2 separate regions of the Homo sapiens genome follow, and region 1 is linked to region 2. Evidence: fine-mapped expression QTL. Tissue or cell type: monocytes. Region 2 holds a variant in brackets; the other region holds the start of a gene. All regions are shown on one strand. Distances are from middle to middle.

Region 1 (8,110 bases), 46 kb before region 2:
ACTACCTAAGAGAAGATACAGTAAAAAGAGAGGTTAAAAGAAAGATCACAGGACAGAGTAGATAGACTCGGGCAAACACTAGGTAGAGTGTGTAAAACCAAGTAGGCAACTGGAGGCTACTGGAGGCTTTTAAAGAAAGTTAAGACAAGTACTGCTCTTTGTTTTGAAAAGTTAATACTAACAAAAAATGGAAGAAAATCAATGGAAGACAACCGCCATGGTTATGGCAAGAGAGAACAAAGGACTAAACCTAGGAAATGGTAAGAAACTAGAAAGAAAGGATAAAAGCAAAAGACACCAGATTAGAAGGGTACTCTAAGATTTTACATCTTCCAGAATTATTTTACTTACTATGAAGCAGAAGTGTCAGTTATTAGAAACTCTTCAAAAATAAAATCTAAGCTTTTGTTAAAGCCCTTGATTTTAAAGTCATTCAATCTTCCCTCATGTTAACTTCTGAAGTATAAGACTCTCCTAATTGACCTGTTTGCATGAATAAAATCAAAGAAACAGCCATCAGATATCTAAATTATAGAAAAATCTTATGACTCTTTCTATAGGTTGTGATTATTGCTGGTAGAGGTATGTTTTGTCCATAGAGTTTCTGCAAAACATAATGGCCTCCTGGTAGTTTCCAAACCCAGTGTCATTAAATATATTTGAACGATTAACTCTCCCTTACTTGGTTTTGTTTTCTTGTGTTTACCATAAAACCAGCATCATAAAATCAAAGTAAAAAAGAAGAGTCAAATTCTAGATTTATCTACTTAACATCTTGACTATATTTAGTTACTTGGAACATAGGTAACAATACTAGTAAGACTCTTAAAGACTACCTATAAAATTTTTCTTCTCTCCCAACATACTCAGTTACCCATAATTTAAGAAAAGATACATAATATCTACACGTGGTCACCACAGAAAATATTACTACAAAAACATAAGATTACCTTGTAGACTAGTTGTAATAATATCATAATAATAATACAATAATGATGATATTGGGTATTATTTATTGAACATATGGCAATGTGCAGACACAAAGCCAGAGGTTTTTCTCTCATAATTGCTAATCCTTAAATGGCCTTTGTTATTAACAGTACTTTGTAAGGAGAGGCAGGGAATTGGTGGCATGGTGTGAAGCAACAAATTTTAATACAGGCTCTGGGTATACATCAGATCTTAGACAGGGGTACCCTGGTAGCCCAAAAAGTATTCTAAATTCTATGTGTGCATTTTTCTAGGCAGAGAGTCCATTTCTCTATTAGACTTTGAAAGGGACAGAGAGTCCATTTCTCTATTAGATTTTGAAAAGAACTGACAATCTCAAAATAATTAAGAAGCACACTTTTTTTTTTTTTTTTTTAAGAGAGAGGGTCTCACTCTGTCACCCAGGCTGGAATGCAGTGGCAGAATCACAGCTCACTAATCCTCCCACCTTAGCCCCCCAAGTAACTGGCATGACAGGTGTGCATCACCATGGCCGGCTAATTTTTTTATTTTTATTTTTTTAGAGGCATGGTCTCGTTATGTTGCCCAAGCTGGTCTCGGACTCCTGGCCTCAAGAGATCCTCCTGTCTCAGCCTCCCGAGTAGCTAGGATTACAGGATGAGCCACTGCACCTGGCAGAAGCACCATTCTTATAGTATTGTATATTTACACCCTCATATTTTCAAAGTTAAAGGAGCAAAATGTTTCCCATGCAGAAGTAGAGATGGAAGGAGTAACTACCACCATGGCACTTAGATGTGACCAAATTTATAATAAACAGAGTGTGATTATAACTAATCTGCATTTTTTAAATTTACATATGAAATTCACCAAAAAAAAAAAAAAAAGGGAAGGCAAGGGGCAAAGGAGGGACAGCAATTTAGATAATAGGTCTCTCTAATCCCTTCCAGTTCTTGATATATTCTGCTACTCTTTACCTTACCAGGCCTAGCCACAGAATTGGAGTCTTACACATTTAGGGTCTGAGAGGTTTCTATTCCAACCCCCTCGCTTTTGAAATGAAGGCCTACAGCATTCAAGTATCACACACAAGGTCACACAAGTGGCAGCCCCAGTTTCATAATCCTGATCTCCTGACTACTATCACATACCCTTTAGACTCTAACACTATGAAATCACTAGAAAGTAATCCACTAATTCGGATTAAACATATCCTTTGTTTTCCCCAACAGCACAAGTGCTATCTCACTTCCACTAGCTCCAGCTCTGTAATGAAATAGAAACAAACTTGGTTAAAACAATCCTTTAAGATCATATCCACAGCAAATGTTTTTGTACTAATTCACTTTAAAAGGCATAGACTTCTATTTCAGTGGAGTCATTTATTCTCATCTTATCCAGAGTGTTTAAGATTGTTTTCCACAGCATATCACACAGGCCAATAATGTATATCTAGCTAGACAAATAAGACAACTTTCTCACTATATGTAATCCTTTCACAAAAGAAATAAAGTGACAAAATCCTGCATCGAGCAGTTGATAATCCATTGCTACGTATTGAGGAAAAAGTTTAAAACAGATTAGGCCCACGGTAAATTTGTTTCTTTGTTTCGGTGGCATGAACTAGGGAGACTGATAAATCCACTTAACAGGCCTTACTCTACAAGGAGAACCTCGGTTGGGTGTCATGCCTTGTGTCTGTAATCCCAGCACTTTAGGAGTATGAGGCAGGAGTTTGGCTTGAGCCTGTGTGTTGGAGACCACCTGGGCAACATAGGAAAATCCCATCTATGAAAAAAATTTTAGAAGTAGGGCCGGTTGTGGTGGCTCATGCTTATGTTCCTAGCACTTTGGGAGGTCAAGGCAGGAGGATCTGTTGAGCTCAGGAGTTCGAGACAGCCTGGGCAACACAGTGAGTCCTCCTCTCTATAAAAAATAAAAAAACACTAGTCAGACATGGTGACTCGTGCCTATAGTCCAGCTACTCAAAAGGCTGAGGTGGGAGGATCACTTGAGCCCAGGAGATTGAGACTGCAGTGAGCTATGATCATGCCACTGCACTCCAGTCTGGGTGACAGAATAAGACCCTGTCTCAAAAAAACAGCGGGTAGAGCAGAGGAATTTTGTTTATATACTCCAGTTAACCTTCCAGAAAATTTTAACATACCCTAACTTGTCATCCATGCAATACATTTAGAAAAAGTGCTAACCAACCATGTATTGGGTTGAACTACATGAAATGACAACCAACCATTCTTGACTTCAAAAACACTAATTTCATATGCCTGAACTTAAATGAGAACGATATCTCAAGGAAAAAAGGAGAAAAGAAAAAGAAAGATCACAAGGCTGTGAAATTCCTATTAAGACAACGTTTAACTTTTTAACACTCAAATATGTATGTGCAATAATAGATGATCATGTAAATAATTTTACTCATGCCTTTTACACACACACAGACAAATCATGCTGGTTTGCTAACTCATAGTATTTCATTATTCTATTCCTTGGTATGTGCAAATCCTTCATTCCAGTAGACACAGAGGACATTACATGAGGAACACTATGAAAATGTGTTGTCAAACTGGTGGCTCACGCCTGTAATCCTAGCACTTTGGGAGGCCGAGGTGGGCGGGTCACGAGGTCAAAAGATGGAGACCATCCTGGCCAACATGGTGAAACCCCATCTCTACTAACAGTACAAAAGTTAGCTGGGCATGATAGTGCGCGCCTGTAGTCCCAGCTACTCGGGAGGCTGAAGCAGGAGAATCGCTTGAACCCGGGAGGCGGAGGTTGCAGTGACCCGAGATCGCGCCACTGCACTCCAGCCTGGCAACAGAGCGAGACTCCGTCTCAAAAAATAAATAAATAAATAAGTAAATAATATCAGAATATATTACATAAGCTTTCAAATTCTGAAGAAGCTTTTAAAAAGTAAGACTTTATGAAGTGACTTTTACAAGTTATTTGAGGAGAGCTTTCATTCTAGTTTGTAGAATTAAGGCTATTTCAATTTATGAAATACAAAAAATTATTTGAAAGATACGTGTATCAGAAGGTATAGCTAAAATATGAAACTGATTACAGCCCCTGGAGTGCAAATGTGGTTTAAGGATCAGGACGGCCTTGAACATAACCTACTCATAATCAGATGGCAAGAATGACATCAGCTGGAGAACTCTCTTCCAAGACCTGGATGAAATCACAGCCCTCTAGCAACATCCACCTAGATCCATGTCTTACCTTATACTCAACTCCACTGTCAATATTATTTTCCCCAAGGAAAAAGTAAAAAATGAAAGCACAACACTAATCTTCTGTCTCCACAGGATGTGGCAAAATGAGAAATAACAATTACATTTTATTTTCAAAGGTGGCCCACGGCTGAAGCACTCGGACCTTACACTAAAGCGAAATTTTCCAGCAGTCACAAGATCCAGTTCTTTCACAGCCGACTAATAAAAAAGTAAAAGAATCGACATTAAGCTGCGCCCAAACAGGCCAGGAATGGGACCTAAGGCGTCACGAAACTTCCCGAGGACATTATGTATTTAGAGAAGGCCCCACAGAAACCCTCAAGTGGGAAAGCTATGTCTCCCGGGTCTCGGGGTGGCAGGCAGCCTGAACCCCGAGAGGTTCGAGGCAAGGCGCCCCCGGCCGGATTCGGGCCCAAACCAGCCCGCCACGCCCTGAGCTCCGCGCAGCAAACCTGCCGGCCGAGCGGCGGCCCTCGGAATGGTGTTTTCTCGGCGCTACAGGAGGGAGAGCGACCCAGAGAACTTGGGCCTGGCAAAGGCCGGGAACCAGGCAGGCGCGGGTGGGGAGAGGAAAGCAAACGTCGCGGGAGAGCGCGGCCCAGAGGCCGAGGAGGGCGCGAGCGGAGCCGGCCCGAGCCCGCCGCTGCAGTTTACAGTTCCCGTCGCGGCCCAGGAGACAGCAGCCACCGGGGCAGAAAGAGCCCAGCCACCCTCGTCACGACCCGCACCTCCGCCTCACCTGGACTTGCCCACCCCACTCTCGCCGATGATGAGGATCTTCAGGGTGGTTAGCACGTCCTCGTCCATCCTGACCCCGTTCCGCTCCGAGCCCAGCTGGCCGCCCGGGTGCGCCTCTCAGCCCTTCAGCAGAGTGAGCTGCTGCGCATGCGCGCCGCTCCACGTCTGCCACCTTCCTTTCACACCGGGTGTTCAGGCTGCCGAAGCCCTGGACTCCCCAGTTCCGCCTTGAGGTAGCTCCACGGCTGCGCGACCCAGAATCCCCGGCGTTTTTCCGGACTGCGTGTTCCTCCCCTGCGCAAGCGCAGGTGGGGAGCGCTGTGTGTGACTTTGTTGGCTTCTTCTTGAGGTCTAGCTCCGCCCCAGCCTCAACCTAACCCTCCTTTTGAGTCAGTGGGAGGACTCAGTCAGGAGAATATCAAGCTGTTTTATTTCGGCAGCTGCTCATAACAGCTGCACTGCGGTGGGAAAAGCACTGTGCTTGAAGCAGATTATCTTAAATTTAGGTCCAGCTCTACCTTATAACTGCCTTGTCATACTACCCAGCTTTCTTAGCCTTTCTCCATCTCTGAGAGACACAGTAACACTTCTTAGAACATCTGCTTCTTATTGTTATGAAGGTTAAGTGAGTTAATTTGTGAAGACATGTTGTTAACCAAAGTGCTCTATAAAAGGTGTGATCAGGTATTATCTTGCTGGCTTCCCCTCTGTTATAGTGGAGAGCACCCTCTGCACCCTAATTCATCTTGAAAGGGAGGCGTAGACTTCAGGTAGGTCAGGTGCATTACTTCTGGCGGTGCAACTTCAAGTCAACTCTCCTTCCTCATAAGAACTGCTACACCCATACTGCAGGAAGTGTATGTCTACACCTTGCCTCCTGCATTAAGTTGTAAATCTTAGTGAAGGTACCAAACCTCATTCATAATACTTAGCACAGTGCCTGGTACATGGCAGGCACTCAATAAACCTCAGTTCTCTTGTCTTATTTCCTTATACCTGCAGCTAATGTCATATACAATGGATATTTGATTAAAGACTACATATAAATAAAATTTCAAATGTTAAGAAATTAATTTGTTAAATAGCTGGAAAAGCCCTTTCAAAAGATATCCCAATGGCTTCTCCTCCTTCAGGTCTTCGCTCAAATGTTGCATTCTTAAAGAGGCCTTCCCTGTCCATTCTACTGAAATATGCAAATCCCTCCAGCATTCTCTAGACCTCTTTACATTGTTTTTCTGCATAGGATTTAACCACTCTCTGATACACTATATATTTTACTACTTTATTAGAAGTCTCATGAAGGCAAGGATATTTTGTTTTGTCTACTGGTATGTCTTCAGTATCTAGAGTACTTCATGGCACATAATATGTGCTAAATAAATGTATGCTGAATGAATTAATTGAATGAATGTTGTAGAGTCCATTCCTAACCTTAGAGAATAATGTCAATGAAACAACCTCCACTTCTCATCAGATAGCCCTTGAAACTTCAGTCAAGTCTATCTAGCTTACTTTTCATTATGACAAAAAGATCTTATTTATGAGGTTCACAGTATTGTCAAGCTCTCCTGCCCTGGGGTCCCGAGATCCCTAGAAATCCCTGAAAACCTTTCAGGGGGGTTGCAAGATCAAACTATTTTCATAGTTAATATGTTATTTTTTCATGCACATTCTCTGATGATAATATAATGGAGTTTTCCAGAGGCTATATATTAATAACATGTAATAGCAAAACAGATTGAAGGCAGAACAAGATATGTGAACTTACTGGTTTTCTATGATATTAAGCCAGATATTAAAGGGATTTCCTAAAATGTAAAACATTGCCACTGTTCTCAATTTTGTTCTGTTTTAAAGTAGTTATTTTCATAAACATTTCTATTAACTGGTAATAGGTTTATTATTGTTTTTAAGTAAATTAACATGTTTGAAATTTTCTCAGTTTTAATTTCTAGTAGGATAAATAAGAGATGTAATCTCTTTGGGGTTCTTACAATCAAAAGCTCTTTCAGGTCCTCAATGATTTTTAAGAGTATACTATAATTTGTACAACCAAAAAGTGTGAGAACCATTGCACTGTGCTATTCACACCAAGATAAATACAAAAACAAAAACTTCATCAATAAATCCAGGGCTATCTCTTGCAACCTGTAATACTGTTGACGTACTTTGGCAATATCATTTTCTCTTGGATTTCCTCCATCTCTTGGCCATTTCCTCTCTTTCTTTTTCTTTTCTTTTCTTTTCTTTTTTTTTAAGAGATGGGATATTGCTATGCTGCCCAGGGTGGTCTCTAACTTCTGAGCTCAAGAAGTAATCCTCCTACCTCAGCCTTTGAGTAGCTGGAACTGCAGGCATGCATCACCACGCCTAACTAATTTTTAAAACATTTTTTTAGAGATGGGGTCTTGCTATGTTGCTGGTCTCAAACTGCTGGGCTCAAGCAATCCCCCTGCCTCGGCCTCCCGAATTTACATCTCTGGCTGAGATTTTTCTCCTGAGGTTCAGGCCAACATACACAACTGCCAAGACATCCCCACATGGGGGCTGGCAATAAAGAGATGTACTTAAAAGACACAATGAATAACTGTCCCATGCTTAGTGAAGAAGAGGGGAAAGAAAAGGGAAAGAAAAACATCGAACATTTCTCTAATGTTTCAAGCCTCGGCACTACCAATCTGAGAGAAAACCCAAGACAGAAACAAGAAGGAATATGAGTTTCGTTTCAGCCATAGTGAATTTTATGTAAAGGTGAGCCTTGAAGGCAAAATTTTTCAGACCTCTTTTAGAGCAGTGGTTCCAAGATTCAGGACAGATAGCAAGACACTAAAAAAATGAACCAAGGAGATGGCCTAGGTGTTCTAACCAACAATTTGGCCTAGGTGTTCTCTTCTATATACTATTATCCTTACATCCCTGGAAAACACAGCCAAATCCTTTCTTAGGTTTCAGACATAACTGACTGCCCTTTTCCCTGTGGATCCATCTTCTAGTATTAATTATTTTTACCATATCCAAATATATGATCACCTCATAAAGGAATGTCTATGGCAATATTCTTAATACCTGAAGTTTGGGATGAGCAATGAGCAAGCCCAGTATGTAGGAAGAAATTGAAATGGCGAAACCACTTGGAGATGTGATGGAGAAGGCCCATCCCATGT
Region 2 (8,110 bases):
ACGGTAGTAATTCATTTCCTTGCATCAGTTGACTGGTCTTTAAGCAGGCACATGGTCCATGCTAAGCCAATCAGTGTCCTTTTCCTAGAATTTTACAACTGGACTTGTGAAACGCTTAACGATTCAAACTCCGGTCTCCTAGCAGACTTTTGGAGAAAAATTCACCTGTTTTCAAAAAGAAGGAAGCCAAGACAGGCAGAAAAACAAACAAACAAACAAACAGATAAACCATAAGAATCTTGTGGGCAAACAAGGCTTGGTTCCAGGTGTCCTTGAGGCCCAGCTATCCCCCACATCTTCCAGAAGCTACATTGTTTTATAAGAGTCCATAGTATATATTTAATAAATTACTGATATGGTTTGGCTCTGTGTCCCCACCCAAATCTCATCTTGAATTGTTATCTCCATAATCCCCACGTATCAAGGGCAGGACCAGGTGGAGGTAATTGGATCATGGGGATGGTTCTCCTGATAATGAGTGAGTCTCACGAGATCTGACGGTTTTATAATCTTCTAGCATTTCCCCTGCTTGCACTCACTCAGTCCTGCCACCCTGCAAAGGTGGTGCCTGCTTCTCCTTTGCCTTCTCCCATGATTGTAAGTTTCCTGAGGCCTCCCCAGCAATGCGGAACTGTGAGTCAACTAAAATGCTTTCCTTTATAAATCACCCAGTCTTAGGCAGTTCTTTACAGCAGTGTGAGAACGGACTAATAGAATTATTATTATTATTATTTTTTTTTTTTTTTTGAGACAGAGTCTCCCTCTGTCACTCAGGCTGGAGTGCAGAGGTGTGATCTCGGCTCACTGCAAGCTCCGCCTCCCGGCTTCATGCCATTCTCCTGCCTCAGCCTCCCAAGTAGCTGGGACTACAGGCGCCCGCCACCATGCTCAGCTAATTTTTTGTATTTTTTAGTAAAGACCAGGTTTCACTGTGTTAGCCAGGATGGTCTCGATCTCCTGACCTCGTGATCCACCAGCCTCGGCCTCCCAGAATTACTTTTTAAAGTGATTTTATTAAAAAAAAGATTTTCCTTCACTATACCCAAGAGAGTTCTAATTATTTTAAGTAAATTAATCAGCTGGTGGTACCGTAAACATAAGAAGACAGCCATCAGGATAAGGACTATTTCTCTGAAGGCCACTGAAAGTTTAATAGGTTTGTAAACAAAATAAATTCCTAAGCCCCCACCAACTGACTAAATGGATTCCCTCTTGGCCAAGGGGACCCCAGAGAAATCTGAAAAACTGAATTAATGACATTAAAGGAGGTTGGACACACCTCATTATACCCCCTCCCTTTTGGAGTTTAGACACAACTGACCAACATTACAATAAATTTTAAAATAAATTAATTTAATAAAATAAAAGTAATAACTTTTATTAATAAAAATAATAAAATTAAAGTACTTAAAATAAATTTAAATAAAATTAAAATAGAGATCACAAGACTGAAAAAACAGACTCTTTGTGGCAATAAGCTACCAAATTCCAACCTGACTCTGGTGTAGGATTGCGTGACACATAGCAGACCCAGAGAGAAATCAAAATATTTTAACCCAAAATATATTTATTTGACATATTATGAAATTGCCCCACAAAGCTGTCTTTGTGGGGGAAATTTGCATCTGTAGAGAATCTCCATTAATGCAGACAGGCCTTCCCTTTGCAGGCCTTTCCTGGATCTAGGAGAGATTAACCAAGCATCTGATACCTTTAAAGATACAAAAAGAGACATTTACTATCTATTCTCTCTGAAGCCTGCTACCTGTGAGACTTTATCTACTTAACAAGAACTTTGGTTTCCATAAGCCCCCTTATCTTAACTCAAGCATTTTTTTCCTACTGACTTCAAGTCTTTAGACAAAGCTTAACTCTTTCTCAACCAATTGCCAACCAGAAAAATCTCTGAATCCACCTATGACCTGTAATCCTCCCCACCCCACCCCTCATCTCACTGCCCGCTTCAAGATATCCCACCTCTTTGGGCTGAGCAAATGTTTACCCTCCATGTATTAATTTAGTATTTTACCTGCAATTCCCATCTCCCTAAAATGTATAAAACCAAATTGTAACCCAATTGCCTAGGGCACTCTTTCTCAGAAGTTCTCAAGACCGTTCCCTGGGCTATGGCCACTCATATTGCCTTAGAATAAACCTCTTTAAAATACTTTACAGAGTTTGAAGTTTCTTTCCATCAACAAGTTATAGACTCGAGACAAGTATTTCTACTGAATAGCCAAAAGAAAGTACATTTAGCAAACCAAGACGCATACTCTATTAGCTATGGCATAAAAATAGACAAAAATAAAGCCATCAGTGTTGCAGAACTTTCTTTGCTAAAAATAAAGAGGGAAAAATATAGAGAAGTGAAGTAGGAATAACAGATCCCAATCACCAGGAATAAACCATTTAAGCTCTTCTCTGTAACCTCCAAAGTTTTATGTAAAATAAAAGAGGTAGCCCAGATAACTGCCTAGCTCCCTACTATCTGTAAAATTCTTTAGCTCTAATATTAAAAAATGTCAACAGTTATTCACAAAATTTTTAAAGTCCTGAAAGTATGACAAAGATTATTTTCATACTAAACACAACTGCCAAAAATGGAGGTCTTACAACTGACTTAGCTGCAACAATATAATTAGACTAAACACTTCAGAATACTTTTATTGGTTAATTAGTTTGTGTTGATGACAAATTATTACCAGCTCTTAGAAGTGAACTGTGAAGTCTAAGATATAGCTTATGCTTTTTAGATACTAAAAATATATAAAACTGTTGTGTGACGATTCAAGAAAGCAAAATCAAATTGCTGTCATTTATTTCTGTATGGCTTTTAATTTAAAATTGCTACTCAGCTCAAGATCCAACTCATATTTATTTTTGTTTTAAAATGCAGTTCATTTCACACCAATAATTCACTTTATTATGAATGTTTTATTTACCGTGATTCAGTACTATATATATATACACACACACACGCACACACACATGCACACACACATATATATAATTAGGGTAATGATTACAAAACATTTTTGACAAGTACAGAAAATAGTAATGTTTTCCAGCTGCGACATGGTGTGTCACCAAAAGAACCACTGGCCCCACAGAATAAGGCAACACTTATGCAAGTACATGACAGAAATCTAAATGTCTAATGAATTAATTTTGATCATTGACTTACAGATTTTTCTAAATGTTCCCATATGTTGTTTAAATTGCCCATTATCAAAGTTAGTGCCTGAATGTTGTCACTTTCAGAGCTTCACTCTGGAAAGTTTTAAAAATTGTAATTATTTAAATGTATTTGTGTGCAGTGTACTGTCATTGGGGAAAAAAATAAAACTACTGCCTTGCCTAATAGACTATTTCTAGATATCTAATTTTTGAAATTAAATTTAAAGTTCTGAAGTCTCTTTCTTTTATTAGCTGTAGTGGTGCCGTGGCAAGATATTTTGTTCCTTTGGTAGACTTGTGTACTAAAGAGTCAAAACGGAGAAATATATGTAAAGACCTCAAATTCAGACTACACACTGCTGAAAGAAAATGCAGAATGTGTCACAACTTGAATCTTCAAGCTCGGAAAGCACTGCAGATTGTCCACATTCTAGGAGGCTGCCATAGCATAAGCTATCTGTCCCTACCCCATCCCAACCTTCCCAGGGATTGTGCTGGAAGGAGAGAGCTCAGCCAGGGCAAAGCACAAAAACCTCAGAAACTATTTCTAGATGAGTCAGTTTCACTGGTCTGGCATAAAAGTAAAGATCAGAAAGCCTTCCTATAACTAAAACAATTGTTCTAAACATTATAAATACTAACATAGTTATTTTGCTGTTTAGAAAACAACACTTATAATTTATTGACTTCTTACAAAGTACCAGCACTACCTAAGCTCCTCAGAGGCAGGTACTCTACTACCCCATTTAACTTGTCCAAAGTTACACACCTAAGGCACTGTCGACCCAGGATGTGAACACAGGTGCCTGACTATGGAGCCTGTGCCCCCTGACAGTGCACAATGCTACTCCTGAAATGACCGAATGTAAAGGGCTTGATTTATTGGTACAAATGACACAAACAAACTTCCTGTGTTCTTGTCCTAGGCTAAATTATCAGGATGTAACTAAGCAGCCATTTTGTCCTGAGATTCTTTTAGTTCTATTAAAGTTTACACACCCTCCAATTTTTATTGTACATGCAAATACCACACAATGAAAATTTTAAGAAAAAATAGGGTTTATGTCATGTAGCTCTCCCTTTTACAGTACCAGCAAAATAGGCACCAAAGAATCTGCGCCGCTCTCCCCTGACCAAATCCTCAAGTCAAGGATGGGAAACAGGGGCTTGAGAGCCATGAGTTTTGTACGCCCATGTTTATAACAGCGTTAGTCACAACAGCTAAAACATGGAAGCAACTCAAGTGTCTGTCAGTGTTTGAGGGATATGCAAAATGTGGTATATACACACAATAGAATATCATTCAGCCATTATAGGAAGAAAATTCTCACATAGGCTAACACACGGATGAAACTTGAGGATATCATGCTAACTGAAATAAGCCAATCACAGAAAGACAAATACTGTATGATTCCACTTGTCTGAGGTATTTATTTAGAGTAGTCAAAATCATAGAGATAGACAGAAGAATGATGGTTAGATGGGGGCTGGGGACAGGAAGGAATAAGGAGTGGCTTAAGAGATACAGAGTTTCCGTTTTGCAAGATGAGTGGTCTGGAGATGGATGG[G/T]GGTGATGGTTGCGCAACCTTATGCCACTGGACAGTACATTTAGAAATGATTAAGATTGTAAATTTTATGTTATGTGTATTTTACCATTTTTTAATTGGGAAAAAAATTAAAATTGAAAAGAGGAGCCCTGGGACAAAATTGTTATCTATAATGACTAGCTAGATGGATTGATTCCCTTCCCCCTGCCCCACAGACCTCCCCATTTTGTCAGTAGCAGGTAGCTGAGGCATCTGCTTCAGGTTGGAGAAAAGTGTGGGTTTTTAAGGTGGAGAGGCAGGGCAGGGCCTTTGTGAATGGCATTGTCGAAGCAGTCCAAGGAGCACCCCCTAAGGATGCGGACCTGGCATTCCTCATCCAGTAACACATCTGGTTCCTCCTCCACATCCTTGGAGACAGACCTCACACAAATACAAGACCTAAGCCAACAATTACCACACAGATGAGGAAAACCAATCTCATAAAAGATACATACTCAACTTAATCAACAGAAGTAACTCCCTAGGGAAAAAGGTTACTAGAGCAAACAAAATGAGCCTTTAATAAAAGTAAAATTAATATCCTCAGGAGGATATCGTAACTATAAAAATACAACTATGAAAACAATTTGAGATCTTAGAAATATAAAAATACCACTCACTATTAAAATGAAACTCAGTACCAGGGCTGAGTGATAGAATGGACATGACTGAAGAGCATGTTCACAAAGCTGAAAGATCAAACTGATTACCTTGCCCTAAATGCAGTGCAATGGAATGAATGGGTGGTAAACACAAAATAAAAACTAAGGCTTGAGGGAGAATTCCAGAAGGTCTTGCAACCATCTAACTAGAGTTCCAGGACAGAACAGAAAGTATTGAAAAAATAATAATAAAAGTAATGATAGAAGAATATTTCCAAGAATATCAAAAGACATGAGTCTTCAGATTGAAAGGGACTACTGAAATGTTTTTATTTTTTTCAACCCTGCTCCTTCTGTAAAGACTACTGAAAATTGATCCAGATGAAAACAACCATAGATAAGTTCTTGTGAAATATTAAAGGGTAAGAACAATATCTTCAAAGCCTTCAAAGAAGGAAAATAATTACCTGCAAAAGAGGAAGAATCAGATTGATATTAGATTTTATCATTACAATGCTGGATGCAAAAAGACATTTGAGCCAATTTTCAAAGTAGCAAGTGAAAATAAATTTAAATCTAATTTAAATTTGAATGTGAACAACTCACATATCCACCGTAACAGAATGATTAGATAAGCTATGCTATATCCTTATTGTGGGACATTTTTTGTGACACTATGCAGCAGTTAAATATGCCATCTCTGAAATACATTGTTAGTGAAAAAGCAAGCTACAGAAATATAATATGCCAGACATGGTTCAAGCCATCTCTAAGACACATTGTTAGTGAAAAAACAAGCCGTAGAAATATTTATATATATCAGTCATGGTTCAACTAAAGAAACAAAATCAGTAGGAAATACATGTTAAGAGATTTATTGCAAGGAATATGTGTATCCAACTGTCAGACTGGCTAGGCAGTCTGAGAACCACAGAGCAGGCCATCAGGGAGAGAAGTCTGGAACTGTCAGGCACGAACTGATGCTGCTATCCATAGGCAGAATTCCTTTTTCTTCAGGGAAGACTCAAGTCTGCTCTTAAGAACTTTCAAATGACTGAATCAGGCCCATCCAGATTATCTAGGATCATCTCCCTTACTCAAAATCAACAGAATATGGATTTTAATCACATCTACAAAAATGCCTTTACAGCAACACACCCAGGTTAGTGTTGATTGAATTAGTGGAAACTGTACCTTAGCCAAGTTGACACATAAAACTGACAATCACAATCATATATATATATGCATCATGATCCAGATGCAGTGTGTGTGTGTGTGTAGATAGAGTTTGGGAAAGATTCACATGAAACAGCTAACAATGGTTACTATTCAGGAACAGAGGGAAAACTGGAAAGGAAAGCTCAGGAACACTGAAAATTGAAACAAGAAGTGATCTAGGGCAAAGAGGAGACTCATTTTCTGCTCTTTATAGTTCCAGTTTTTAAACCTTTTTTACCACTAGATCATATAATGAATTACATGTGTTTATGTTTCCAATTTTTAAGCCTTTTTACCACTAGATCATATAATGAATTGCGTGTGTTTGTGTGTGTGTGTGTGTGTGTGTGTGTATTTTTTTAAGAGAAAGGATCTCACCTAGGCTGGAGTACAGTGGCACAATCATAGCTCACTGTAGCCTCTAACTCGTGGGCTCAATCCTCCAGCCCCAGTCTCCCAAGTACCTAGGACTACACACACATACCACCATACCCAGCTAAACCTTTTAATTTTTTTAAGTAGAGACAGGGTCTTGCTATGTTGCCCAGGCTGGTCTGTAACTGCTGGCCTCAAGTGATCCTCCAGCCTCGACTTCCCAAAATACTTGGATTACAGGCGTAAGCCACTGTGCCCAATGCTACATTTTTAGCATCTATAAAAATGTATGTCTAACTCTTGCCAACAAGTGGTTTATAATGAGATTAAAAACATTAGTAACATGCCTGTAAGTCATCTACAATGAGATAAAAACATTAGTAATATGTCTGTAGGTAAAGAATGAGTATAATCCACCAGTTTCAATGCCAACTGATTTTTTTTTTACAGAGCTGTCATTTTATTTATAAGGATATTCTTTTCAGTGTTAATAAAGACACCTAAAGTTCAGTTTAAAAATTAAATAAAAATATATAAATAATAAGAATCTTTTTTTTTCCAGTAAGCCAGGAACCTAGTTGTACCCCTAATGAGTGAGATATATTATCTCTCTTAGGTCACAGGGGACCTGTTTTTTAGCATTCCAATCTAATAGACTTCGAGTGGCCTCCCTAAGCACCTAGCTATAGACAAAGTGGATTAGACAATATGGAAAATCCAGCTCATTAGGACCCAACTACTGAGAACTACGGAGTCTCACCTCATCAGACTTGAGAATTCATCATAACACAGATGCAGAACAAAGGTCATTGTTTCACAAGTAAAGATGGCTCTTTCTTTTGCATTCTGAATGTACACAGTATAATCTCCTTCTTTGATGTTTCTGGTTAATTTACAAGGTCAGCGTTTTCCAAAGGTTACATTCTAGATTTATATGGGTGTCCTGGGGTTGGGCTGCTCGATATACTTCAACTGGTTTCTTACCAGATTTCATCCAAATGCTTCTCCAAGTGTACCCTCTGTGCTTAGACTGTAAAACAAAAGCAAGGCAGGAGGGGGCTAAAAAAACAGTAGAAATGAATCAAGGCATAGATAGAAACATCAAATTAGAGCCCATTCAGAGCTCCGTTTATTTCTCTTTCATATTTATTA

The links. PIP is the estimated chance that this variant, and not a neighbour inherited with it, causes the effect.
Region 1: RAB18 starts here. The variant in region 2 is fine-mapped to the expression of RAB18 in monocytes (TOPMed, PIP 0.98).

Annotation. Positions count from the first base shown.
Region 1 is chr10:27,501,275-27,509,384 of GRCh38, reverse strand. It overlaps RAB18 (RAB18, member RAS oncogene family), which reads right to left and starts at 5,081. Exons shown (of 7, transcript NM_021252.5): 1 at 4,948-5,081. The coding sequence starts at 5,015. It overlaps LOC124902399 (a long non-coding RNA gene), which reads right to left and starts at 4,940. Exons shown (of 2, transcript XR_007062097.1): 1 at 4,661-4,940; 2 at 4,293-4,406. RefSeq lists enhancers at 4,946-5,005, 5,116-5,385.
Region 2 is chr10:27,454,781-27,462,890 of GRCh38, reverse strand. No RefSeq gene overlaps it. Among named protein-coding and RNA genes, the nearest start is that of PTCHD3, 44 kb to the right of the region's middle. The variant G/T (reference allele first, on the strand shown) is at 4,746.